Regions from separate parts of the Homo sapiens genome. Here all the other regions are linked to region 5. Evidence: fine-mapped expression QTL. A gene starts in region 5. Each other region holds a variant in brackets. All regions are shown on one strand. Distances are from middle to middle.

Evidence for each region. PIP is the estimated chance that this variant, and not a neighbour inherited with it, causes the effect.
Region 1: its variant is fine-mapped to the expression of BDKRB2 in fibroblasts (GTEx, PIP above 0.99).
Region 2: its variant is fine-mapped to the expression of BDKRB2 in breast (GTEx, PIP above 0.99).
Region 3: its variant is fine-mapped to the expression of BDKRB2 in cerebellar hemisphere (GTEx, PIP above 0.99). The same link has a PIP of 0.9 or more in cerebellum.
Region 4: its variant is fine-mapped to the expression of BDKRB2 in prefrontal cortex (ROSMAP, PIP 0.95).

What each region holds. Positions count from the first base shown.
Region 1 is chr14:96,174,556-96,179,657 of GRCh38, reverse strand. No RefSeq gene overlaps it. Among named protein-coding and RNA genes, the nearest start is that of BDKRB2, 28 kb to the left of the region's middle. RefSeq lists an enhancer at 3,472-3,972. The variant T/C (reference allele first, on the strand shown) is at 2,444.
Region 2 is chr14:96,228,477-96,233,578 of GRCh38, reverse strand. The region is part of intron 1 of BDKRB2 (bradykinin receptor B2); the gene reads right to left. Among named protein-coding and RNA genes, the nearest start is that of BDKRB1, 25 kb to the left of the region's middle. RefSeq lists a silencer at 2,052-2,247. The variant G/C (reference allele first, on the strand shown) is at 2,505.
Region 3 is chr14:96,261,565-96,266,652 of GRCh38, reverse strand. BDKRB1 (bradykinin receptor B1) reads right to left here. Exons shown (of 3, transcript NM_000710.4): 2 at 3,883-4,001; 3 at 1,890-2,980. The coding sequence starts at 2,970. The coding sequence ends at 1,909. The region is part of intron 1 of BDKRB1-AS1 (BDKRB1 antisense RNA 1); the gene reads left to right. Among named protein-coding and RNA genes, the nearest start is that of BDKRB1-AS1, 4.5 kb to the left of the region's middle. The variant T/C (reference allele first, on the strand shown) is at 2,848.
Region 4 is chr14:96,242,817-96,247,918 of GRCh38, reverse strand. It overlaps BDKRB2 (bradykinin receptor B2), which reads right to left. Exons shown (of 3, transcript NM_001379692.1): 3 at 3,755-5,102. Among named protein-coding and RNA genes, the nearest start is that of BDKRB1, 11 kb to the left of the region's middle. The variant T/C (reference allele first, on the strand shown) is at 2,005.
Region 5 is chr14:96,202,858-96,207,959 of GRCh38, reverse strand. BDKRB2 (bradykinin receptor B2) reads right to left here and starts at 3,121. Exons shown (of 3, transcript NM_001379692.1): 1 at 3,001-3,121. RefSeq lists an enhancer at 2,785-3,660.

The sequences.
Region 1 (5,102 bases), 28 kb after region 5:
CTTCCTAATAGTAATAATTTCTTTCGTTTATGATTTCAGTTCTTTATAGTGTTCAGTGGACTCTTGCATATTTCATTGGTTCTTTTATTTATTCTATTCTCCATCAGCTCTGATCCCACCTCCTTTCTGCCAAGTGCTGGCAAGGCTCTGGATGGCGCAGAGGGGAGACAGATCCTGGATCATGCATTTGTGTATCCCTGAATTCAGGAATAAAGTCAGGAGTGAATTGATGGAGTGCCTTCCTGGTGGGCCCAGGCTATGAAGGGCTTCGCACATCATGCCGTGGGGTCTGGGTGGCTTCCTGTTGGCCTAGGTGTGCGCTGGAACAGAGTCAGAAGCTCACTGAGGTGAGGGATGGTTGTAGCTGGGTGAACATGAAGTTGAGGGCTCCGGAAGACATCTGGGGAAGGCCGCTGAAGCCCAGGACATGCCAGGGGTCTAGAGACCAAGGTCTGATCTGAGACCAGACTGTGTCCAACCCAGGGCTCTGTCTGGAACTTCATTTCTTAGCCACCAGATGGCCTGGCTGCTGGGACTTTCCCGCTGTGCCATCTTCAAGCACATGGAAGGGCTCTACCTGCACGGGTGGGTCTAGAGCCCTGTGGGTTTCCCCCAGCTGCAACTTTGGAGCAGGCCGGGAACTCTGCAGGCAAACAACTTGCTTGGATTTATCATTTGTGTTGCTCAGCATCTGGGAGCATAAACAAGGCCATGGGTGCCAGCTGTGGTTACCTCTTAGCAAGGATCAGGATGTCTGTGCAAAACCTGTCACCCTGACTCGCTGTGAGTGGGTGTGGGGCATGCACACGTGCACCCATGCACACACATATCACACACAAACACACTCACACTGCTACAGCGCAATTGAATTCCTTGCCCCAAATGCAGAGCTGCTTTGTATGTCTCCCTTCTCTGCATTCCTGGTGTCAGGGAGCTTCCATTTTTTGCTGAAATCAATTTAGGAGCAAGAAAAAAAATGAATGTGGAAAGTGTAGCTGCATTTCCAAACTGCTTTTGTCAGGGGAACAGGGTCTGGCTCTGTCACCCAGGCTGGAGTGCAGTGGAGCGATCATACCTCACTGCAATCTCGACCTCTTTCCTCAGTCTCCTTAGTATCTGGGACTACAGGCAAGAGCCAACATGCCTGGCTAATTTTTTTTTTTTAAATTATTTGTAGAGATGAGGTCTGGCCATGTTACCCAGGCTGGAACATAAACTTTAAAAAATTTTGTAAGCAACCAAAGCCTTTTTCCAACAAAATCTTAGATTGATAAAAACAAAGTTGCTCAGGTTGAAGCCAGGTAGGGCCCAGAGCCCTGGTCACTGGGCAGCCCCCCTCATCCCCCAGTGTTGTTTAAGAAATTCTGGAAAAACACAGATGAGAAAGGACAGGCACTGGCAGAGGAGCTCTCGGAAGGAACGCCCTGGGCTCAAAGATCTGCTCAGGGTCCTGGCTCTGCCGCGATTTGTGTGTGGGTGGAGCAGGGTACGCCCCACCCTCTCAGGACCTGAGCTTCCCCTCCGTGTACTGAACTTGTGATGAAGCCTGGCATGTGAGCGGCCTCAGGAAACCCCCCTCCCCTGCCTGTTTCTCTGTTAAACCCAAGTGCTCTCTGAGTCGGTTTCTAATATTGTGATTTCATGGTGGAAGCCTCATCACTGATAAAATAGGACACTATAAAAAGTTAAGCAATATTTAGGGATAATGTACTGGCCTTCCAGAAGAACTGCAGTGGCTATTTGCACGCTCACCTCCTCCTAAACTCTGCCTTCAAGCTTAAGCCGTTATGCACTTTTGGTCTTCAAAGCTATCTTAGGAAACTTGGGACAAAGCAGAGTAAGAAGGGACTTTTGACTCACATGCATCTGTGTTAACTCTTTCAAGGCCAAGACTGCCATTTTCAAAAATTCAATTGAGATAGAGCTGGAAGGGACCTTTTTTACATTTTACAGATTGGGCAACTGAGGCCCAAGGGGAGGGGGGTCAAGTTAGTGGCAGAGCCAGCAGGTGCTCCGAGGGCTCCTGACTCTGTATGGTGCAGAGAGTTTAAGAGCAAAGGCTTCAAAGTGAAAAAGACCCGCCATGGAATCCTAGCTCAGCCAACTAAAAACCAGGAGATGGTGGGCAAGTTATTTAAACTCATTGAACTTCATTTTTATCCTTTGATCAGTGAGAGTAATTCCCAGTTCGTAAGGCTAATGTTGGAATTAACTAAGATGATGGTTATAAAGTGCTTGGCCTAGTGCCAAGCCCAAGAAAAGTGCTGGAAAATGTCAACTGTGGTATTATCACCCCCATTGTCTAGATTAGGAAATCAAGGCTCAGGAAGGTTCAGCTCCTTGCTGTGGCGTGATCCCGGAGTTTGTACCCCTGACCACGACACCACATTGTTTTCGCAGAGGGACAAAACTGCTTTCCAAATTTCTTTCAATAAGAGCATTG[T/C]ATGTCTTGGAAATAAATTCCTGGACAGGCACTTGGAATGGAAGCTGAGCCCCCAGGGCCTGCGTGTGGGCAGAAACATCCTCCTTCAGACCACGGGAGATGCTGACTACTCTGATGTGTGTGAGCATGTGTGTGTGTGTGTGTGTGTGTGTGTGCACATGCACTCACGCTGAGGTCAGTGGGGTGAGAAAAAGAGAGGAACGGTGAGCCCCAGCTTGGCAGAGAGCAATGCACGCACACTGCCCCTCTTCCTCCTGCTCCTCTGTGCCTTAAATTGCTCAACTCACAAAATTTGGCAGCTGAAGCAAAGCCTGAGCTTCACGTTCAGAGAGCTGAGGCCAGGAAACAGTCAGTCCCTCCGGGATACAGGAGTGCAGCGCTGGAGATTCAAGCTGTCAAACAGCCAGAAAAATCATTTTGAGGGTTGGAGGGTGGGGTGGGGAGGAATCCTTGGGAGGCTCAGTGCCCACACGTTGGGAGTTTGGGTGAAATTCCTCCAAATCCCCAAGAGGCAGGGAGACCCCAACTAAACCCTTGGTTTTGTGTATGCAAACCAGTTAAATTAGTTTTTCAGGAACCTGGATAAATGGCCTGAGAAAGTTGCTCTTCCCATCCATGATGGCGGACATCCTTCTGCTGAGTCTGTTGCCCTGGGGCACTTGTCAGTATGAGCGCTCAGCCCCAGGACCAAATCCACCAAGAATTAAATGTCCCTTCCCCTCAGCTTCTGGCAGAACCTTAGCCTCCTGAATCATCTGAGACTTTCCACTTCCTACAGATGCTCTGAATATTTCCTAATCTGACCCCATCACCCATCCTTCCTTGCTTATCCACCCCTTCCTGTGAGCCATCCAAAACTCTTGGTTTATCATGAGTTCTGATCATTTCACCCTCTTATACCATCCCAAACTTGGCTGTCTGTTGAAAGTCCTGCTTTCCCCCAAATCTTCTTACGTGGCTAATTCTTTCTATCACACTCCATAATTGCAGGATCTGGAAGTAGTAGGGCCAATACCTTCCTTGCCCTCCAGCCAGTCCCCTACCTGTCTCCTTCCTTTTCAAAGCCCCTTTGACAGGCATGGTCCTTCTTCATGACCCCGACTCCTGCCAGCTGTCATTTCCTGACTGCCCCATCACCCTCCTTGCTCACCGATATTGTTAGTACTGGATTCACTGGCTCTTTCTCCACCACCACCCCCATCATGGTTCTTGGCACATGAAAATTCATAGATCTTAAAGCGGAGCCTGAGGTTGGATTCTTGCTCAGATGATTTACTGGGGAGTACTCCCATGAAAAGGGGGGCAAAGGAAGCAGGATACAGCAGGTGGAAAAAGCTAAGCAGGTGGTCTGGTTGGAGCCCAGCTTCTGCCTCATCCCATGGGGGGCTCTGGCGCACCAATGAGTTAGTGCCTCTATCTCCGGGGCAAACTTTGTGGCAGCCATGAGGCTGGCATTGGCCAAGGTCTGCAGAGTGCACAGAGCACAGCCTCCTGGGGTCTGGAAAGGGCTTGGACAGGGCACCAGCAGCAGCCACTTCGCTGTCTAATCCCAAGCATTTCCAGTTGCCTGATCTCAAGGGACAGCCAGTGATCATCTCTGCCACCCAGCCCAGCCACCCATCGAGTCTCGCTCTGTTGCCCAGGCTGGAGTGCAGTGGCACGATTTTGGCTCACTGCACCCTCTGCCTGCCGGGTTCAATCCATTCTCCTGCCTCAGCCTCCAGAGCAGCTGGGATTACAGGCATGTATAACCATATCTGGCTAATTTTTGTATTTTTTTTAGTAGAGACAGGGTTTTACCATGTTGGCCAGGCTGGTCTTGAACTCCTGACTTCAGGTGATCCACTTGCCTTGGCCTCCCAAAGTGTTGGGATTGCAGGCGTGAGCCACTGCGCCCAACCCCCATTCAGTCTTGATTCCAAGAATCCCTCTTGCTATCGTCTCCTATTTTTCCACCTCATGACCTTCCAAAACATCTCTGCCCCAACTCTGCTCTTCCTCAGCCCTCACCTGGAAGCTGATTATGGCTGGGAAACATCGTACAATGCTGCTAGTTGCTCTCACTTTAAATTTAGGAGCACAGATCTCTAGAGGGCAATGAACACTTTCTCTAAATCCATCACACTTCCCTAGAAATGTACTCTTTCACTTTCCTAGTTCACCACTCCTTCCTCTACATCTTCCACGGTGCTTTCTTCTCTCTCTCTTGGCCAGTGGCCTCCTGTCATGTTTGATAGAGAGAGTCTATGTACTCAGATGAGAAGTGCTCAGCAGGTCCCAGCCTGCCAGCATGTTTGGTCTCCACATGCTCCACGTGGAAGATGGGTCTCTGCTTCTAAGCACATGGCTCAGGATCCCTTTCCCTCTCCCCCTCTCCAGGACTTTGTTTCTCTACTTATTTCCATCTCTTTCCCCTGTCATCAATGACACCTTCCTGCCAGACGTCCCTAAGTAGCCCGCACAGCCCCTTTTGAACACCCCTGGATTGTCCATCTTCTTCTGTTCACCACCTCCTTTTCTGCCTCCTTCACAGCACCTCGAAGAGTCACGTTGGCTGCTGGCTCACGTTCTCACCCTCTCCTAGAGCCTCTCTACCTGGGTTCTTGTCTCCATCATACCCCATGAGATGGTTCTACTGGTAACTGATGCCTTATGTGGC
Region 2 (5,102 bases), 26 kb before region 5:
ATTTTAAGTGGAAAGAATCCAAGAAACAGCAGGCGCAGAAGGACTATGTGATTGTTCCCTGAAGCAGGACACCAGACTCCACAGCCAGAGGAAAGGGGCACCGTCCACTCCGAGCACTGGGGACACTGAGAGGAGCCCCGACAGGCCTTGCTGTTTCTCCAGTTCTCTGTACTTCGCTCGTGCCCCCTGGTCCCACCACAGCCCCATGATTCTCCACTGTTCATGACATCTAATGGAAACACTCAGGCCGGTCACAGTGGTTCATGCCTGTGACCCCAGCACTTTGGGAGGCTGAGGCAGGCGGATCGCTTGAGCCCAGGAGTGGGAGACCAGCCTGGCCAACACAGCCGAGACTGTGTCTACAAAAAGTACCAAAAAATTAGGTGAGCGTGGTGGCACACACCTGTAGTCCTGGTCCTAACTACCTGGGAGGCTGAGGTGGGAGGATCAGCTGAGCCCGGGGTGATCGAGGCTGCAGTGAGCCGTATCGCACCACTGCACTCCAGCCTGGGCTATAGAGCGAGACTCTGTCTCAAAAAAACAAAAAGGCACTCAGGCTTAATCACTTCATTTCCTTATGAAGGTTCCCATGTCACATTAAACTTACATTAAATTAATTTGTTCACTTTTCTCTTGTTCATCTGTTTTTTGTTTCAGGGCCCCCAACCAAGAACTCGGAAGTGGAGAAGGAAAAGATATTTTTCCTTCGGATGTCAACTTGTGTCCCGTATTTTCTGACTGCACGTTAGAGCTGGGAAGCATTTCCCAGCAAGGGAAGTAGTTTGGCCTGGTAAACAACCTTGAATTGAATAATCTAGTCGTTCCTCCTGATTAGGCCAACAAGAACGTCTCAGCGTGGTGTCCGTGCACTTCAACGCCTTTCTATGTGCGTAATCTCCTTTTTCAACAGACTGAGCAGGTTCAGAGCCTTGGCTGGTCCCCGAATCTACCCAGGCTCTAATAGCATTGTTCACATTCTATTGCTTTTATTTTGTACAGTTATCATCTTTTTTATGATAAGTGATACTCATTTTCCATTTAAATTGGTGACATGAAGTTGCAGTTCAAAAGTAAGTCACTACTAAAGAAATGGTTGTACAGGTGACATGGATGTGGCAAAAACTGTGAACGTGAATGTCAATGGCTAAGTGTGGGAAACACAGCCTGAAAGCCTCTAGCTGGAAACGTGCATTACGGACGGGAAGCCAGCCTGGCGGTTAGGCCGATGGGCTCTGGAAGCTGACTGTGAATTGAGTCCTCCTCTCTAGAGCTCGTTATTTAACCTCATTGCACCTCGTTTTTTTCAACTATACAGTGGGGATTGGTATTTTAAACAGCCCCATCTCCTAGGGTGCTGTGTGGAGTAGACGAGTCCGTGTGTGTCAGATGCATGGAGCACGTGGTCAATGTGTTCGAGAACATAAGCTGTTCTTCCTGCACCAGCCCAGGAGGCCCGTCTGCTTTAGCTACACCAGGGGCTGTGGGGTGTCAGGGATTCCCTTCCACCTGGCCAGATCTCCTGCTCACAGGCCAGCTGAGGTTTCCAGTCATTCATTACACAGCCGGATGGAGAGATGGGGGATTTTGCTGGGACGCCACCAGTCTGTCCATCCAGGAGAGCTCTTGAGACAGCTGGGCTCCATCCTTAGTCAGAGGGCGGCTGTTCTCCCTCTCCCTCTGCATCTCCTATCTCCTCTCAGTGGCAGCTGAGCACATGGTGTGCGTGCATGCGTGCATAAAGTGCATGTGCATCTGTCCCACCATATTCGCTGTACTTGGAGAGGAGGACCCTGCCTTGCTCATCTTCCCACCCTGCATCACGCCTGCAGCTGAGTTTTGCACATCCCAAACTCTTGAACAATATTCGCTCTGTAAATAAGTGAAATCCTTCAGACCACCCAGCAAGTCGATGTCAAGGCCAGAGCTAGAAAGAACCAAGATCTCCTGAATCCTTTCCCTGACACCTCCCCAGAATAAATGTTTTCCTCTAAAAGCTGATTGACGTGGTTACTGAGTCTGGATGCTGTTTTTAGGGCAGTCACGAAGGTAAGCCTCAGGCCACAGCAGGCAGGGGGTGGCGGAAGGGGGTGATGGCGCCTCATAAACCATATGAGCCTCAACAACCAGAGCTGCGTGGCCCTCAGCAGGGTTTCCAAGAGTCCCTTTTCTTTTCTTCCCTGAAAAGAAGGCCAAAGCTGTCTGTAGGGGGAAGACGGGGTTCTGGGAAGTGACCTCCATTCTCAGAACTCCCAAAGAGAATTGAGTCAGAAGATTTGATTCAATCCCAGACATATACATGTAAGTCCTTCCAGCATTTGGACACTTTATGGGCCTGGAATGTTCTGGAAACACTTTCAGTGGGGACATGAGGGAGCCTGGAGAAGCAGAGCCCCTCATCCATCCTGCTTTCTGCAAGGGAGGAGGAGGCCTGCCGGCCTGGCTTTGCTCACCCTTGGATACCCCGGAACTTATTTTATTCTTGGCTTTTTTTCCTGTTCACTGTG[G/C]TTAGATTATTCTGCTCAGTGTGTTTTGTTTCTTTCCCCAAACTGGGCTTTTCAGTTTTATTAAATAAGCAATTTCATTTGACATCCTAATACCACTCATTCCCCTTAAAAAAAATAACATCTCTCTCTTTAAAAAAAAAATAAATAAATAAATAACTAGGCTGGGTGCTGTGGCTCACGCCTGTAATCCCAGCACTTTGGGAGGCCAAGGCAGGTGGATCACCTGAGGTCAGAAGTTCAAGACAAGCCTGGCCAACATGGTGAAACCTCACTTCTACAAAAATACAAAAATTAGCTGGGCATGATGGTGGGTGCCTATAATCCCAGCTACTTGGGGGGCTGAGGCAGGAGAATCGCTTGAACCGGGAGGCAGAGGTTGCAGTGAGCTGAGATCCCACCGTTGCACTCCAACCTAGGTGACGGAGCGAGACTCCATCTCAAAAAAAAAAAAAAACTACAGCAAAGAGCATTTAAAACTAATATTAAGCCCCGTCTCTACTAAAAATATAAAAATTAGCTGGGTGTGGTGGCGGGCGCCTATAATCCCAGCTACTTGGGGGGCTGAGGCGGGAGAATCACTTGAACCCAGGAGGCAGAGGTTGCAGTGAGCCGAGATCGCACCGTTGCACTCCAGCCTGGGCGACAGAGCGAGACTCCGTCTCAAAAACATAAAAATAAAAGAATAACTACATGAAAGAGCATTTAAAACTAATGGGAAAATCTCCCAGAGTTCCATCCCTGGGCACAGCTGTTTATGTATGCCACATCCAACTATGTTCTGTCACCGTGGTTTTACATGAAACCTCCTGTCATGGGAATTTATCCGTGTTGCTCCATCATGGCTGTAGTAATGACGCCTTCAAAAAAGGCATTGCATTTGTTTATTTTTGTTTACTAAACCATTCCTTTATTCCAATCCTTTTTAATTTTTTTTTTTTGTTGAGACGGAGTCTCGCTCTGTAGCCCAGGCTGGAGTGCAGTGGCATGATCTCGGCTCACTGCAAGCTCTGCCTCCCGGGTTCACGCCATTCTCCTGCCTCAGCCTCCCGAGTAGTTGGTACTACAGGCGCCCGCCACCACACCTGGCTAATTTTTTTTTTTTGTATTTTTAGAAGAGACAGGGTTTCACCGTGTTAGCCAGGATGGTCTTGATCTCCTGACCTCATGATCCACCTGCCTCGGCCTCCCAAAGTGCTGGGATTACAGGCGTGAGCCACCAATCCTTTTTAATTTAATTTTATTTTCAATTTAATTTAATTTAATTTAATAGTGCCACAGCCACGTTGCTGTACTCCCTGATCTCCAAGGACCTCTTCTACAATCTGCCCTAGGAGCCTTTGCTGGGTCTGCCCCCTGCCCGGGTGCCCTGCCTGATTCTGCTCTGTCACTAACCCTCCGTGGCCGCCTCTAGGTGCTCTGCTGCGGTGAGTCTGTGGGTCCACCTGGCTGGATGACAGGCCCCAGTTATTCCATTTCAAGCTAATCTTGGTGTTGGGGTGAAGCAGTTTGTCTGTGTGGTGACAGCCCACAGCCAGCTGGCTTTCACTAAGGAAGCTTGTCCTCAACTCCCTGCATGGGCCTGAGTCAATCAGTTGAAAGGACTTAGAGCAGATCTGAGGTTTCCTGGAAGAAGAAGAAATTCAGCTTGCGGGCAGGAGCTTCGGTCCAAGGCTGAGTGTTCTGGCATTCCCAAGCGACTTCTGACTTGCCTAGTCATCCCTACAATCACATAAGCCAGTTCCTTGCAATACATCTCTTAATCTGTGTCTCCTATTGGTTCTGTTTCTCTGACTGATATCCCCCTGCAAGCAGAAGGTTCTCTTCCACCTCTACCTGCCTCCTGCTTCTATAACATTTATTATAGGGTATAGCTATAAGAGTTGCTTGTGTTGTTATTTCATTTCTCTGTCAAGTGCCTGACACCTAGTAGGTGTTTAATAAATGGTCGTTGACTGACTGATAGAGGGCAGGGTGTGATCCTTATTTCTCCTCTTCTCCCCAGCAGACATAATTGCTGGGTGGAGGCAAAAGGAAATGGAGCTCACAGTGTGCCCCACCTGTTCCAGCCTCAACACTGCACTGAGTGGCTGATGCATTGCTATTCCCATGTTCCAGATGGGAAAGCAGAGTCAGCGAGGCAACCTGAGACAGTTCAGGTCACCCTGCTCATCAGAGGCAGGGCCAGGATTCAAGCCTGGGTCTGCCTGAGGCCAAGTGTCAAGTCCTTTCTCTGGCTCTGGATTGGCTCCCACCCAGTGAGGTTCTTGGTGCAGGTGATATGGACAGGAGGCAGGGAAATACTGGGTAGAGGAGGACAGCTCTCTGGCAAAAGCCCCACCCACAAGCCTGGGCCCACGGCCCTAAATGAGAACTTCACATTCCTGTTTTCCCACCTGAGTGTTGCTTTTGCCAAAACCACCCTGGCCCACCATGCCCCCCATCCTATACCCATAAAAACCCCAAACTCCACTGGCAGAGGAGCAGAGCAGCATGGCAGAGAAGGAGAGAAGAGAAGAAGTGTCTGAATGTGGAAGAGGCAGCTGGACAGTTGGAGAAGAGTTCAGCCATCTGGAAGAGTACCTTCCCACTCCATCCCCT
Region 3 (5,088 bases), 59 kb before region 5:
CCTTTAACACACTGATCTCACTTCACTTCCTTCTCTCCCTGTGCTCGTTTCTTCCCTCTCCATCATTCCCCCGAGTCTGACCAGGATCCCCAACTCCCATGACGTATGGCCGTCTATCTGGCTAAACCCTACTCCAGAGCAATCCTTTCCTGGGTCTGTCGAGCATTATCAGAGTAAATTCACACAACACAGCCACGCTTTCCAGCTTCAATGGGGCCCTCAAAGCTGCCTGGAGCCCACCATCCTTCCTGGGTGAACTGTCTTTGCCAGCTGACCATGGTGGACCCAGCCTGTCCATTCTCCTCCAGCCCCAATTCTCTCCATGACCCGCCTCCTCCTCTGCCATCCTTCAACCTCTCCCTCCTAACCTGTAACCCCACCTGCCTCTGGGCCTACTTTGTTCCTTCTGTCTGGAACACTCCTTTCCCCCATTTTGCTTGGCCAGCTTCTCATTTTTTGGGATTCAGTTTATGTGTCTCTTCCTCCAGGAACCCCTCTCTAACCATCCCTCCCAGCCACCCAGACTGGAGCCCTGCTCTGGTTCTCACGGCACCCCTCACCCTGATGGTGGCGGGCATCCTGCTCTATGACAATCCCTTAATTATTGTCCTGGTTGCTGTGAGCCCCTGGAGGGTAGAGACACCGTTAGGCTCACCGTTGGGTCTCTCATAGCAAGACCCGCACCAATGCATTACACGTTCAATAAGAGCATGCACAAGCATTCTTTTGTGAGCAGCTCACCCTTTCCCGCCTCTGCCAGCCCTTCCTCCCTGTCTCCACGTATCCAGATTGCACCCTTTGTGGAAACCAGGCTCACGGCTGACTCCCTTCACAGCGTCTTCTCTGCTAACCTGAGAGGGAACCCATCCCCTTTCTCGCTGAAGGCGCAAGATGCTGGATCCGTGGTGTGTTCATGCAATTTCTCATTTCATTTTTTATATTATAATATTTAGATGTATGTAAGTTCCTTGAATATAGAACTTCTAGCTATACCATCCCTGTATTCCTGGCAGTTAGCCTAGAAAGCTTTGAATAGACAAATGGAAGTGTAATAAGAGAGGCCATTACCCGATACTTGTTATTTGTTTCCTGCTGCTGCTATGACAAATTACCAGAAACTCGGTGGCTTAAAATACAAATGGGGCCAGGCGCAGTGGCCACGCCTATAATCCTAGCACTATGGGAGACCAAAGTGGAGGATCACTTGAGCCCTTGAGTTTGAGACCAGCCTAGGCAATGCAGGAAGACACCATCTCTACAAAAAATAGAAAAGTTAGCCAGGCATGGTGGTGCACACCTGTAGTCTCAGCTACAGGAGGCTGAGGTGGGAGGATCCCTTGAGTCTGGGAAGTTGAGGCTGCAGTGAGCCGTGATTGTGCCAGTGCACTCCAGCCTGGGTGACAGAGCGAGACCCCATCTCAAAAAAGCAAAGCAAAGCAAAGCAAACAAAGCAAAACAAAACACAAATGTATCCTCTAACAGTTCTGGAGGCCAGAAATCCTAAATCTGTTTCCCTGGGCTGAAGACAGGGAGTTGGCAGGACCCATTCCTTCTGGAGGCTCCAGGGGAGAAGCCATTTCCTTGCCCTTTACAGCCTCTAGAGGGTGCCTGCAATCCTTGGCTCGTAGTGGCCGTCCTGAATTCCTCTGGCCTCTGCTTCCATAGTCACATCTCCTGACTCTGAGCCTCCTGCCTCCCTCCTATAAGGACCCTTGTGATTATATAGGGCCCACTTGGATAATTCAGGATCATCTCCCCATCTCAAGACCCTTAATTTGGTAACATTCATCAAGTCCAGGGATTAGGTACCCCCCAATCTACGGGAGTAATCATTTAGCCTATCACAATAGCATTTATTATGTCACAAAGAATTGATAAGAAAGCCAAGCTTCTTGGTTCAATGCTGTTTTAATTCCGCCAGAAAAGTTGGAAGATTTCTTTCCTATGGGATGAAGATATTGGAGCAAGACTTTTAGGGGTGCATTGTTTATAAAGTTCCCAGACCTTGGTCCTGAAGAGCCGGCCCACAAAGACATAAATTACTGGATTCAGGGAGCTGTTAGTGAAGGCAAAGAAGTTGGCCAATTGCAGGCCCAGGTCAATGAAGTCCTCCCAAAAGCAGCCTCGGACTGCTTGCACCTGGAATAAGAATTCCAGGAAGGCAAAGAAGTGGTAAGGGGCCCAGCAGACCAGGAAGGCAACCACGAGCGTGAGGATCAGCGCTGTGGTCTTGCTATCCTTGCGGCCCCCGCACCTTGTCCTGCTGACCTCCTCCCGCGTTCGCAGGGAGGCCAGGATGTGGTAGTTGAAGAAGACGATCGCAGCCAGTGGTAGGAGGAAACCCAGAATATTTAACTCCACAATCCTTGCAAAGTGCCAGGCCTCATGGGGGAGGAGCAGGATGCAGGCGGTGATGTTCAGATCTGGGACGGCTTGGATGGATCGCAGCAGGAATGTGGGGATGCTCAAGAGGCCCCCCACAACCCAGATGAGCACGCAGGTGACCCGGGCCTGCCTCCGCCGCTGCTGCCTCCGGCTGGCCATAGGGTGCACCAGCACGCGGTAGCGGTCCTGGCTGATGGCCACCACCAGGAAGATGCTGATGAACAAATTGGCCTTGATGACCCCGTTGATGACACGGCAGAGGAGGGCTCCGAAAGGCCAGTTAAACTGGTTCCAGATATTCTCTGCCCAGAAGGGCAAGCCCAAGACAAACACCAGATCAGAGGCTGCCAGGTTGGCCAGGTAGATTTCTGCCACGTTCAGTTGCCGCCGGGGCAGGAGGAAGACCAACAGGACAAAAAGGTTCCCTAGGAGGCCGAAGAAACAGATGGAGATGATAAATGT[T/C]GGCAGCACTCTGTGCAGCAGGTCCCAGGCTTCTGGAGCATTGTCACAGGCCGTAGCATTTTGAGGGAAGAGCTGGCTCTGGTTGGAGGATTGGAGCTCTAGAGGGGGCCAGGATGATGCCATGCACAGTGACCTGAAATGAACAGAAGGTAGAATAAAACAGGAAGTGGCAGACTACAGCCTATGAGCCAAACCAACCTGTCACCTGTTTTTGGACAATAAAGTTTTATTGGCACAGAGCCACACCCATTCCTGGACGTATTATCTACAGCTGTGTTCATGCTACAAGGGGGAGTCGAGCGCTTGTAACAGAGACTGTCTGGCTTGCAAAGCTGAAGATATTTACCATCTGTTCCTGAGGGGGAAAAGTTTGCTGACCTCTGGTTTAAGGGATGGTGCCTGAGTCCAAATCCCGGTACAATCACTCAGTGTGAGCTACTTAGAACCATTGACTTTTACTTTCCTTTTTAAACATTGGAGAGAATCGTGTCTCTCTTGTGGGATCACGGGAGGGCTGTTGTCAGGATCTACAGGGTGCTTAGCTCCGTGCCTTGCATAGAGGAAAGACTTTGGAAGGTAGTGATTAGTCTTAGTAACAACTGTACCATTATTATTATTACTATTAGGGTTTTAACAGGCATTTAATGAGCCTCTACCTCTTGCCAGCCCCTTGCCAGGCACTGGAGATATGCAGGACAGAGCAGCCCCAGCCTCATGGGGCTGCAGACATGGAGGCAGAGGTCATGGCTTGAGATAGAGCTGAGGGAAGCCCGGGAACAGCAAAGGAAGCTGACCTGTTGGGGCTGGGACCAGTGTGGTGGCCGGGGTGGGGACAGTGCTAGGAGGTTCCTCTTACAGGCTTGAAAAACATGAGTATTGGCCGGGTGTGGTGGTTCACACCTGTAATCTCAGTACTTTGGGAGGCCAAGGCAGATGGATCAGATGAACCCAGGAGTTCAAGACCAGCCTGGGCAACATGGTGAAATCCTGTCTTTACAAAAAATACAAAAATTAGCTGGGCATGGTGGTGCATACCTGTGGTCCCAGCAACTCGAGAGGCTGAGGTGGGAGAATCGTTTAAGCCTGGAAGGTCGAGGCTGCAGCGAGCTATGATTGTGCCACTGCACTTCAGTCTGGGCCGACGGACTGAGACCCTGTCTCAACAACAACAACAACAACAAAAAAAAAAAAAAAAAAAAGGAGAGAGAGAGAGAGAAAAGAAAAAAGAGAAAGGAAAGCATGAGTAATAAATAAGGATAACAACTAACATCTGTTAGATGGTATTAATGGTCTGTGTTCCAGGCGCCATTCTAAGTGTTTCACATTTAAGTATTTTCTCATTTAATCTTCCTGGCAGCCATTCAAGGTAGGGGCCATTGTCATCTCCAGTTGGCCAATTAGAAAATTGAGTGCTGAGACCCGGAGTCGCCTGTCTGAGGTCACACAGCTGGTCAGTAGGGCCTGGATTCAAACCCAGGCAGTCTGATTCAAGAGCCTGATTGAGATCCTGTGCTTCTGTCTGCTCTCTTCTGCTGCACCTGTCCCCACGCGATGAATGACAAAGCCAGGCTCAGAGAAGTTAACCAGCTTGTCGGAGAAGACCTAGGTGGTGGTTACAGTGCTACGCCAGGAACCTTGGTCTGCATGGACCCCAGAGGCCGTGCTCACAGCCATGCAGCTGACTGGCCTCCCACGCTTGCTGGAGGAGCTACAGCTGGTGGGTACAGTGTACACTATGAACCTTGGTCTGCATGCACCCCATAGCTCATGTTCATAGCCACGCAGCTGACCTGCCTCCCATGCTCCCATGCTGAGTTTCACCGGGAGAGGGATAGAAAGCTCTGTCTCTTTCCATAGGGAGGACTGCATCTCCCAGCCCTCTGCGATCCCACAAGGGGTAGATCCCATCCTGTGCTCATGGCTTCGTGGCCTCCTGCTGGCAAAACCGGCCACAGCCAACTCAGGGATCCACAGAATACTATCTGCAGAATGAGCAGCTGCCTACACTGCGGGATTTATGCGGCTCCAGACAATCTTCAGAGCCTAAACATTCTTCCCCAGCTTGGATAGGTTAATATACGCCCGGTGCTTGGCAGGGTTCCTGACTTATTGTAAGCACGTGGCAAACATTAGTTGTCACTGTCATGATTGTTATTAATGGGTGACACCTGAGATTCCTTCAACCCCGCAAAGCCTCACAGATACCAACAAAAGCTATTGTGTAGCAGAGAATTAACCTTG
Region 4 (5,102 bases), 40 kb before region 5:
ACAACATCTTTATCTCACTGAATCTTCACAATACTTGGATCTTCATTTAATAGATGAGAAAAGAGACACTCAGAGAAATTCACTGACCTTCTTCAAATTCCCACAGCTGGGAAGTGGCAGAGGTAAGATGTGAACCAGGAACCTGCCTCCAAGCCCCTGTACTGTTGGTGCTGGGGCCTTCGTAAACTATAGAGGACAGCATCAACATCACATAAGGCAGTCCTTCGAGACCACTGATCTACATGCCAGAAACCTGTTAGAGTCATGACTTATTATCTCTCCACTTGACAGACGAGAAAACTAAGGCCAAAGGTGGTGGGAGGGAAGATGAGTAAAGTGGCTTGCTGAGATCACACAAGTGGCATGGTAGGGAACCCATGGACTGGTCCCCAAAATTCTCCCCCAACAATTAAACATTCTAGCTCAGTGTTAGGAGGTAAAAGGAGCTAGACACAAAAGGCATGTGTTATAGGCTCTACAGAGACAGCATCCTACAACATGTGCCTGGCTTCTTTCACAACAGGTAAATCTAGAGACAGAAAGATTAGTGGTTGCCCAAAGCCATGAGGAAGGGAGAATGGGACGTGACTGTTAATGAATATGCGATTTCTTGGGGGATGATGAAAGTGTTCTGGAATTAGACAGTAGTGATGGTTGCATGAATTGGTTATTAAGTAAAAGCTGAAGTGGGTAAACTCTACGGCATGTGAATTACATCCACCAGCTCTGGGAAGGTGATCTGCAGGAAGCAAGTATGCACAAGGCCTATGAGATGCAAAGCTTTTATTGTGGCAGAAATAGCCCAAGCCCTGGGTCATAAGCTCGTCATGCAAGAAGGCACTTCGAGGACTTTTCCTGTGACAGAATTTGTATCCTCGGTTTGTTAAGGCATGAACACCCCAAGAACAGAGAGAATTTCCAGAGCACCCTCCTTAAGAACTGCATGGCCTTGGAAAGTTACTTCCCTCTCTGGGCCCCAGTTTCCATACCATGAACCAGTGATCATGCAAACTCCCAGAGTGGTTGTGAGCGTGAAGTATTTTGATGGGGTCCCTTTGACCTGGGACTATTTTGCCTCAGCCAGCAAAACAAAATAAAAAACTAAAACCAGAATAAAACTCTCATGAACAAACGATTAAACTTTCAGCCATTGCTGTTGCCAAATCATGACCTCTGTTGCTCATCCCTGCTCCCCACCCTCATCCTTGGTGAAGGATCAGAGCTACATAAGGGTCAGGAATTGGGTAACAAGGAGATAATGCAGCACATGGCTGGGATCTACACAATGGAGACACTCCCCCTCTGAGTCATGAAGGCTGTGCTCAAGAGGCTCCAGCACTAGCATGAATTCCCATGAGGTCATCTGGTGTCCAGTTTGCATCTCTGCATCCTATTCTCACCCCTCTGTGGCCAGGGAAGACTCAGGAGCTAGGCCCCTTGCCTGGTCTCCTGAGCCCACCTGGACTTCTTCTCATTGCGCCAGCTTGCTGGAGCCAGAGAGGGTCAGGAGTTGAGGGGCTGCTCCTGTTGCCTCGCTGGGGAGGCTCTCCCAGCATTTTTTTTTTCTTTTTTTGCCTGCTAAGAGCCCTGCTCAGGTTTCCAGGCATGTGGTTTCCCCTGGATTGCAGACTCCCTTGAGTAATGCAGGCATCTGTGAACAAAATTCCCTGGAGGAGTGAGCTCCCTTGGGCACTTGTGGACAACTTCCTCCAAGTTCAGGGCACTTAGTGAGGGGGTGCAGTCTGGGTGGGAAGAGTGGGCACTGGAGGCAGAATGAAATATCTTCTGGGATCTGTCTAGGTTCTTGTGTCCAAATGGCTGGAGGGTAGAGAATGAGCCTGGAGCAGAGAGAGGGAGACATAGAGACAAGACAGGGACCAGATCATGAAGGGTCTTGCAAGCCATGTTACAGCTGTAGAACCTTATCGCAAGAGGGGTGGGACACTATGGAAGGGTTTCCCTTGGAGGATGCCCCCATCACACTCACTGCCAACACCACCACCA[T/C]CATCATCATCATCATCATCATCATCATCATCAAAGCTAGTACATGTTCAGTGCCAACTATGTACCAGGCACTGTGCTAGATGCTTTCATACATTAATCCTATTAACAATTTTATGAGGTAGATACCATTATTATCCCCATTTTGCAGACAAGGAAATGTTGACTCAGAAAGGATAACTGAGGTACCCAAGACTACACAGCAAATAAGAGCCCAAGGCTGAACCACAAGTGGAATCCAGGTCTACCTAATCCTAAAGTCTTGGCTCCTGAACACAGTTCTCTATGTTTATAGCCTCCCCATGAATGTATTTGCATTCTTAAAAGACCATGTTGGCTGCAGAGTGAAGAATAAGAATTGGGAGATGGTAGTAGTTAGTATTGGAGGCACCCATGACAGACGATGGTTGGACATAGAAGGAAACATAGATTTAGGAAACACTTAGTGAGTAGAATCTAAAAGAGGTGCTGATCCTATTACTGGGTATATACCCAAAGGAATATAAATCATTCTATCATAAATACACATGCACATGAGTGCTCACTGCAGCACTATTCACAATGGCAAAGGCATGGAGTCAATGTAAGTGCCCATCAATTATAGACTGGATAAAGAAAATGCGGTACATATACAACCATGGAACACTATGCAGCCATAAAAAAGAATGAGATCATGTCCTCTGCGGGGACATGGATGGAGCTGGAGGCCATTATTCTTAGCGAACTAACCCAAGAACAGAAAACCAAATACCACATGTTCTCATTTGTAAGTGGGAGCTAAATGGTGAGAACACATGGACACAAAGAAGGGAACAACAGACACTGAGGTCTAGTGGAGGGTGGGGGTTGGGAGGAGGGAGAGGAGCAGGAAAAATAACTAATGGGTAGTAGGCTTAATGCTTGGGTGATGAAATAATCTGTACAACAAACCACCATGACCCAAGTTTATCTATGTAACAAACCTGCACGTGTACCCCTGAACTCAAAATAAAAGTTAGAAAAAAATAAAAGAGGTGCTGACCCACCAGATGGAACAGATGAAGGAGAGGGTACGTTGAGCGATGAGCCCCAGGTTCCTGGCATGGATGGATGGATGCATGGATGGAGGAGGGGCATTTATGGAGACAGACTAGGCAAGTTTTGTTTAATAAATGAGTGAAGGAATGAATACATGAATAATGAAGGGATCCCAAAGTGGCATGGATAATGAATTCCCCATCACTGGGAGTATGAAACAAGTGGCTTTTCATCAGGATATTGTAGAAGATACTCCTGATTTGAAGGGAAGTCAAGTGGTAGGCACTCAGTAAGTCTATATTGCATGAATAAATGATTGAATCGCTGCTGCGCCTATGATTCTAGGCCTCATGAGGGTCTCACATTCATGTAGTGGGAACTTGGTAATGAGTTATCCCTGCAGAAATGTAAGATGGAAGGAAATATTCAAGCACTGTTAATATTTTTTTTTTTTACATCTTCTTTCTTAAATTTCTACTGGTTGATTATATTTTAGAATGTACATCTTCATACAGATTAATAAGTATACATACTGGGTATGCATAATCAATTCTTTTTTTCCTATAGGAATATACAATCACAAAAGCTTGGAGACCACTGATCTACATGCCAGAAGCCTGTTAACAGATTGAGCAGAAATGAATAGCACCCCTTCCCAAAGGCTTCTGAGTGTGCAAGGCGGTACCCCAGGGACCAAACTCGGGGGTTTCGGGAGTTGTAACAAATGCTAGAGCTATGCAAAAACCTCATCCATTTATTATGCTCTACAGAAAAGACACATGTTTACATGATTTTCTCGTTTGGATGTGAAATGCTTCCTGTTTACAACATAACAGCTCATTGAGTCTTTCACAGGACAGATGTTCTTTATCAGGGCATCTACACCATGCATAGGGCCGCTCTTCTCCCGCAGACTCAGTTGCCCCTCAGACCAGGTGTGGATCCCCACATGGCCATTGCGGCAGAGCTCTGCTCCTAAGAGAGTCTCAGACCATCACGTGCTCTGGTGCTGAATGACTGCCCTGTGTGACAAAACACAGCCTCTTTTTTTTTTTTTCATTCACCATGTGTGGCACAGTTTGACTTCATTCTAATACTAATACTAAATGGTTTTTACTTCTTCTTTCACCTGTTTTCTTCCTCCAGATACTTACTGAGGCAGAGGAGAGTGGGTGGTGGGAAAAAAGAGTGGGTTGGGGGTAAGGAGGGAATCTTTTTTTTGACGCTTTTGCTTTAAAATTCAGAGTTGGATTGGTCAGGATTTATGGGCTCTTTGCCATGTAAATTTTTCTCATTCTCCAGGTTCTAGCCCTCCAGGTTCATTCCCTCCAGGTTCTAGCTTGCCAGGTTCTAGCCTGCCGGGTTCTAGCTCTCCATGTTCTAGCTCTACAGGTTCTAGCCCTTCCAGGTTCTAGCCCTCCAGGTTCTGGCTCTCCAGGTTCTAGCCCTTCTAGGTTCTAACCTGCCAGGTTCTAGCCCTCCAGGTTCTAGCCCTTCTAGGTTCTAGCCCTCCAGGTTCTAGCCCTCCAGGTTCTAGCTCTCCAGATTCCAGCCCTCCAGGTTCTAGCCCTTCTAGGTTCTAGCCCTCCAGGTTCTAGCCCTCCAGGTTCTAGCTCTCCAGATTCCAGCCCTCCAGGTTCTAGCCCTTCTAGGTTCTAGCTCTCCAGGTTCTAGCCCTCCAGGTTCTAGCTCTCCAGATTCTAGCCCTCCAGGTTCTAGCTCTCCAGATTCTAGCCCTCCAGGTTCTAGCCCTCCAGGTTCTAGCTCTCCAGATTCCAGCCCTCCAGGTTCTAGTCCTCCAGCTTCTAGCTCAGGTTTTAGCTTCTCTAGGTTCTAGCCCCTCCAGGTTCTAGCCCTTCTTGGTTCTAGCCTCTCCAGTTCTAGCCCTCCAGGTTCTAGTTCTCCAGGTTCTAGCTCTCCAGGTTCTAGCTCTCCAACCAGCTAATAAATATTCATTTATCAAGTGAATGAGTGCTGCCCTGGCACTGCCGATGGTGAACACCATTGCCATTCCTTTTCACACTCTTCTAGGGCTCATACTGGGCCACCTTCCAATAAACCATTGATTGACAGGAACAATCCCT
Region 5 (5,102 bases):
AAGATGGATATTCATGAGGCAGGGGATTCCTGGACCCAATGGATGTCAGAAGTGATGCATTTGGGGTGTCAAGTCTTGGCAGGTCTGATTGTTTGACTCATGACCCTGAGGTACCGTAATTGTCCTAAGTGCCTTCTGAATCCTCAAAACAACATGCAGATCTGCTCTGTGTGCCTTTTTTTTTTTAAAGAGCAGTTTTAGATTCACAGCAAAATTGAGCAGAAAGTACGGAGACTTACCATATATCCCCTGTGCCTACACATACGTAGCCTCCCCCGTTACTGACATCCCCCACAAGAGCAGTCAATTTGTTGTAATTGATGAACCTGCGTTGACACATCATCATCACCCAAAGTCCATAGTTTTCATCAGGGTTCACTCTTGGTGATGGACATTCTGTGGGTTTGCACAAACGCACAATGACATGCCTCTACCATTACAGTGTCATACAGAAGTTTCACTGCCCTAAAAGTCTCTGGGCTCCTCCCATTCTCTCCTCCCTCCCCTAATTCCTGGCAACCACTGATTTTTTTTATTTTTTACTGTCTTCATAGTTTTGCCTTTTTCCAGAATGTCACATATAGTTGAAATCATACAGCATATGCCTTTTCAGAGTAGCTTCATTCACTTAGTGATAGGTTCTGTATGCTTTTTTATTGCCTGCTATATGAGCAATATTTATTTATTCATTTAACCATTCAGCATTTCAGCAAACACTGATCCATCCATGTTGGGCTAGGCATCGTTTTCAGTGCAGAGGAGGCAGCTTGAGCGGATAGACAAGGCCCCTACTTTCATTCTGAAAACCAGAGTCCCCCGGTGCTATGATCCAAATGCCTGTGTCCCTCCAAAATTCACCTGTTGAGACTTAATCTCCAAGCTGGTGATATTAAAAGGTGAGACTTCTGGGGGGAGATTAGATCATGAGGTCCCCCTCCTTGTGAATGGGATTGGTGGTCTTTAAAGGAGGCCTGGGAGAGCGTGTTCACCCTTCCACCATATGAGGATGCATAGAAGGTGCCATCTATGACGACTAGGTCCTCACCAGACACCCAATCTGCCAGTGCCTTGATCTCGGGCTTCCCAGCCTCCAGCACCGAGAGCAATAAATGTCTGTTTTTTGATAAATTACCCAGTCTAAAGTATTTCTTATAGCAGCTCAAACAGGCTATGACACTGGGCAAATCTGCAGGGCTCCCCCCACCGCGCCCAGGTGGGCCCCTCCCTGACCACAAGCAGCACAGGTGAGGAGGCCGCCCTAATGTTACCTCTGGAGCCACCAAACTTGTTACTGAGCCAGTCACTGTGTTAGCAAAAACCACGTGGCACAGCTATTCGGTTGGTGCAAAAGTCATTGCGGTTTTTGGCATTACTTCTAATGGCAAGAACCGAGATGACTTTTGCACCAACCTAATATTTCCAGGTTGGGTCCCACCGGCAGGCAAATACCACTTTCAAAGTCCTCAGATCCATCATGCAGGCCCAACCATGGGAACCTCCCCGTTTGCAAGGGAGGGAATCCCAAAGAGATTGAGGCATTTCCCTGGACACTGAGCGAAGGGCTGGCTGAGGTCATGTTCCCCCTCTGAGACTCAGTTTCCTCATCAGTGCAGTGAGAGGCTTGGAGTGCAGGGTTGCAGGGAGAGCTGGGATGAGGCCTGGGGTGCTGCCTGTGGGGACAGCACGCATGCTTCCTCTTTTTCATCCAAAGACGCCTTCTCTTGGCTGTCCCCTGCTCTCACCCCAAGCAGGGGAAACAGCAAATGCTTCCTCCAAGCTTGTGGGGCTCACAACTGTGGAATGTCTCTTGCTGCTGCCAGGGCCCGAAGGACGCAGCACAGTTTTTTCTCCAGAGAACCTCGGGCAGGGCCTCTTTGCAATGTCCTCTGGGGTTGCTTACCTGTTCCCCCACCACCTAAGCCCTTCTCCAACTCAGAAATGGAATTAGGGGCGGGGTTGGCCAGGGAGGCCCCCATCACCCCACACCCAGGCCAGGGCTCCCACTTCCTGTAGGCTGGGGAGCCACAGGCGGCCTGTGACTCAGTGAGGCACATTCTGACCTGCCTGGAACAGCAACACCTGCTGTTCACCTCCACCCAGGCTGCGGAAACGACCTACTCTCAGCAACTCGAATCACGGCTGCCATTTATTTAGTGCCTATGACATACGTGGTGCTTCACAGGCAAGAGCCTACCTCTATCTTTGCATAAAGAGGAACTTCCAGGTCTTCTTTATAGCTCAGGAGACAGGACAAAATAACTCGCCCAAAAACGTCACCCACAGGGTGAGAGCAGGGCTGGAGCTGCAACCTGGGCCGGATGCAAAGCCGGTGCTTGGAACCCCTGCACCATCCTATCCCCCTGCCCTGGTCAGCCAGGACCGTGGGAAGAGGGTCTCTAAGCCCATCTGAGGTAGTCACTACCACCTGCCTCCTGGAGGCGCATCAGCCAACATTCACAAACCCCCCCACCCCCGCCTGCTTCTGATTTAACCCTGCCACCCCCAGGGAGCCAGCGAGCTGGCTGCTTTGCAGACAGAGAAACTGAGGCTCAGAGAGGTTGAATAGCTTGTCCAGGGTCACACAGGGCCAAGGAGTGGCACAGCTGTGGGTGAAAAGCCAGGTTCTGGAGCCTCCACCCAGCACCCGTCCCTGCTGCACCACACACACCTCGCTGCCTTACTCCAAGGTGTCCACTCAAAGTATGTGAAAATCCAATCACGAAATCCCTCACACACTGGACACACACAAGCCTGTCTGTCACCTTGATTCAGAGAAGAGAAACCTACAACAGACAAACAGGGCGATTCCTCCTGCTGGGAACCCTTCTCCCCATCGCCTGTCAGACCTCCCCTCCGGAAGGAAGGGAACTTTTCCCAACTCCCCACGACCACAGGGAAACTTCTCCCCGCTGCCTGCCCTCCCTCCCTCCCTCTGTGCTGGGACAGTTTGTCCTCCCAGCAGAGGTGAGGCGGCTGGAGCAGCCCCTGCCCGGCACCCACCTTCTCCGGAGCAAGCGGCATGGGCACTTCAGTCGCTCCCTGGTACTGCGGGGCAGCCTGATGTCCCCACCGTCCCCACCGTCCCCACCCCTCCTCGGAGCCCAGAAGCCAGAGCTGGAGTGGCGGCGGGAACAGCTCATCTTTCAAGGGCTGGGTAGTGATGTCATCAGCCTCCTGGGCACTTCCCCCTCCGCCTCCAGCTGAGCTCTGCACTCCTGCCCAGCTGGAGCCAGGCTGGCTGTGGGGCCGGGAAGGCTGCGGCCACCTTCGCTCTCCGCTCTGCCACCCTCTGAGCCCTGGGGGCCAGGGAGGCTCTTGGAAGATTTCCATGTTTGCGTAGCCCGGCTGCCCGTTGGAGTCGTGGGACGGCAAAAACGTCCCTCCCGGCTGACCACAAAGTGGCCTGGGAAGCCCCATGTGAATAAATTTGCCTCGCGTAACATTTATTTCTTATCATTATTTATCTTCTTGAGGTGGTTATTTTGTGTCTGAGTTTTGGATGTAAACAGTGGGCGTTTACGCGGAAGGTGTAAACAGAGGGTGGCCAGGTGGGCAGGCGGAGTCCTGGGATTTCTTTGTATGCCACGTACGGCTCCCAAGGGCGACAGTGGCAGAAGCTGTCCTGTTTCCTGGGTACGGGTGTTTGCGCTCCCCTGAGACACGCGGCCGTTTCTTCGGAGATGTATGGCGGAGGTTTCTCCCATGTCAAGGCTCAGGCTGGCTTTCTCAGTTTTGCTCAAAGACTTACTAACTATCTGCAGCACTTTACACTCCCAGGGCTGAGACGGTAGGAGCTGGAAAGGGCAGGGACTTTCAAAACATTTTTTTTTGAAGCCTTAAAACCCTTCCTTCAGAAGAGAACAGATAAGAGTGGGCCCAGTGGATCTGGGGAAGAGACAGGAGGGCCAGAGGACGTCCCCCCAGCCCATCAGCTCCTCTTCCCTGTGACTTGATTCATAACAAGCCTACAAACCAGCAATCAAGCCTGATCCCATCATCATGGAGACAGGGAAACAGAGTCTCAGATCAGTTTATGGGTGGCCTGGGCGCTAGCCCTGGCTTGGCTGTGAACTGGCTGTAGGCTCTTGAGTGAAGGCCCTCCCTGGCCTGGCTGTGTGGTTGACTCATCTGTGCACCTGGCTGTTCAACCACATTGGGGCTCCTTAATCTGGAGTTTCCTGACTTGCCAGTTGGGGACAGAGGTCTATGGACAGGCTGCCCAGAGTCCACAAGCCCTCTGAAAAGGTGTGTCTGTGCTTTATCCCCTATGGAGCCTCATCTATAGCTTTCACTAAAATATTGAAGAGCTCTGAGATCCACAACATATTGAGACCTGCATGAGCGTCCAGAGACCCTCTGAAGTCTCTTCCAACTTAGATATTGTAGAGCTCTGTATCTATGAGTTGAAAATCCTCAAGGATCTGAATCCAATGTTGATGCTTCTGTAAATATCATTGACAGAAATCTCTAAAAGACATCTGTCCATCTGCACACATCTCCATCCATCTCTGTCATATAGTTTTTTAAAAAGGCTACTTTAAACCAGTTTTGAGGTCCTGGCTGGAGGCCAGCCAGTTCATGAGCAGCTGATTAAGTTCACATTCTGGCCCTTTCTCTTACCAGGTTCTCACACTCTGGGCCACTAGCCACCTGCCCTGATGGCCTTGGAGCCAGGTACCAAACAATAATGGACAGCTCCCATCATCTGGAACTCACAAACTTATTTAAGTTAGCCAATCCATAGGGAGCCAAGGAAACCTCGTTAACACCACCCTACGTGCCACACATAGCTGCCGCCTATAGCTCCAGCTTGCTTGGACCCTGTCCCCAGTTGCACATCCTGTGTGGCCCAGCCTGACAGCCTCTCATTTGGAGCTGTAAGAAACAAAAGTTCTACCTTTCATTTATCTGAGTGTCACTGTGTTGTGTCCTGCCATCAAAAGAATATTTTAATCTTATAAAACAATTACACACTCTTCCATTCATCTACACTGGTATCTACCCACACATCCGCCCACCTGCCTATCCACCTATCCAACCATTCATTTACTTATTCGCCTGTCTGTCTGTCCATCCGTCTATCCATCCAACCATCCATCCAT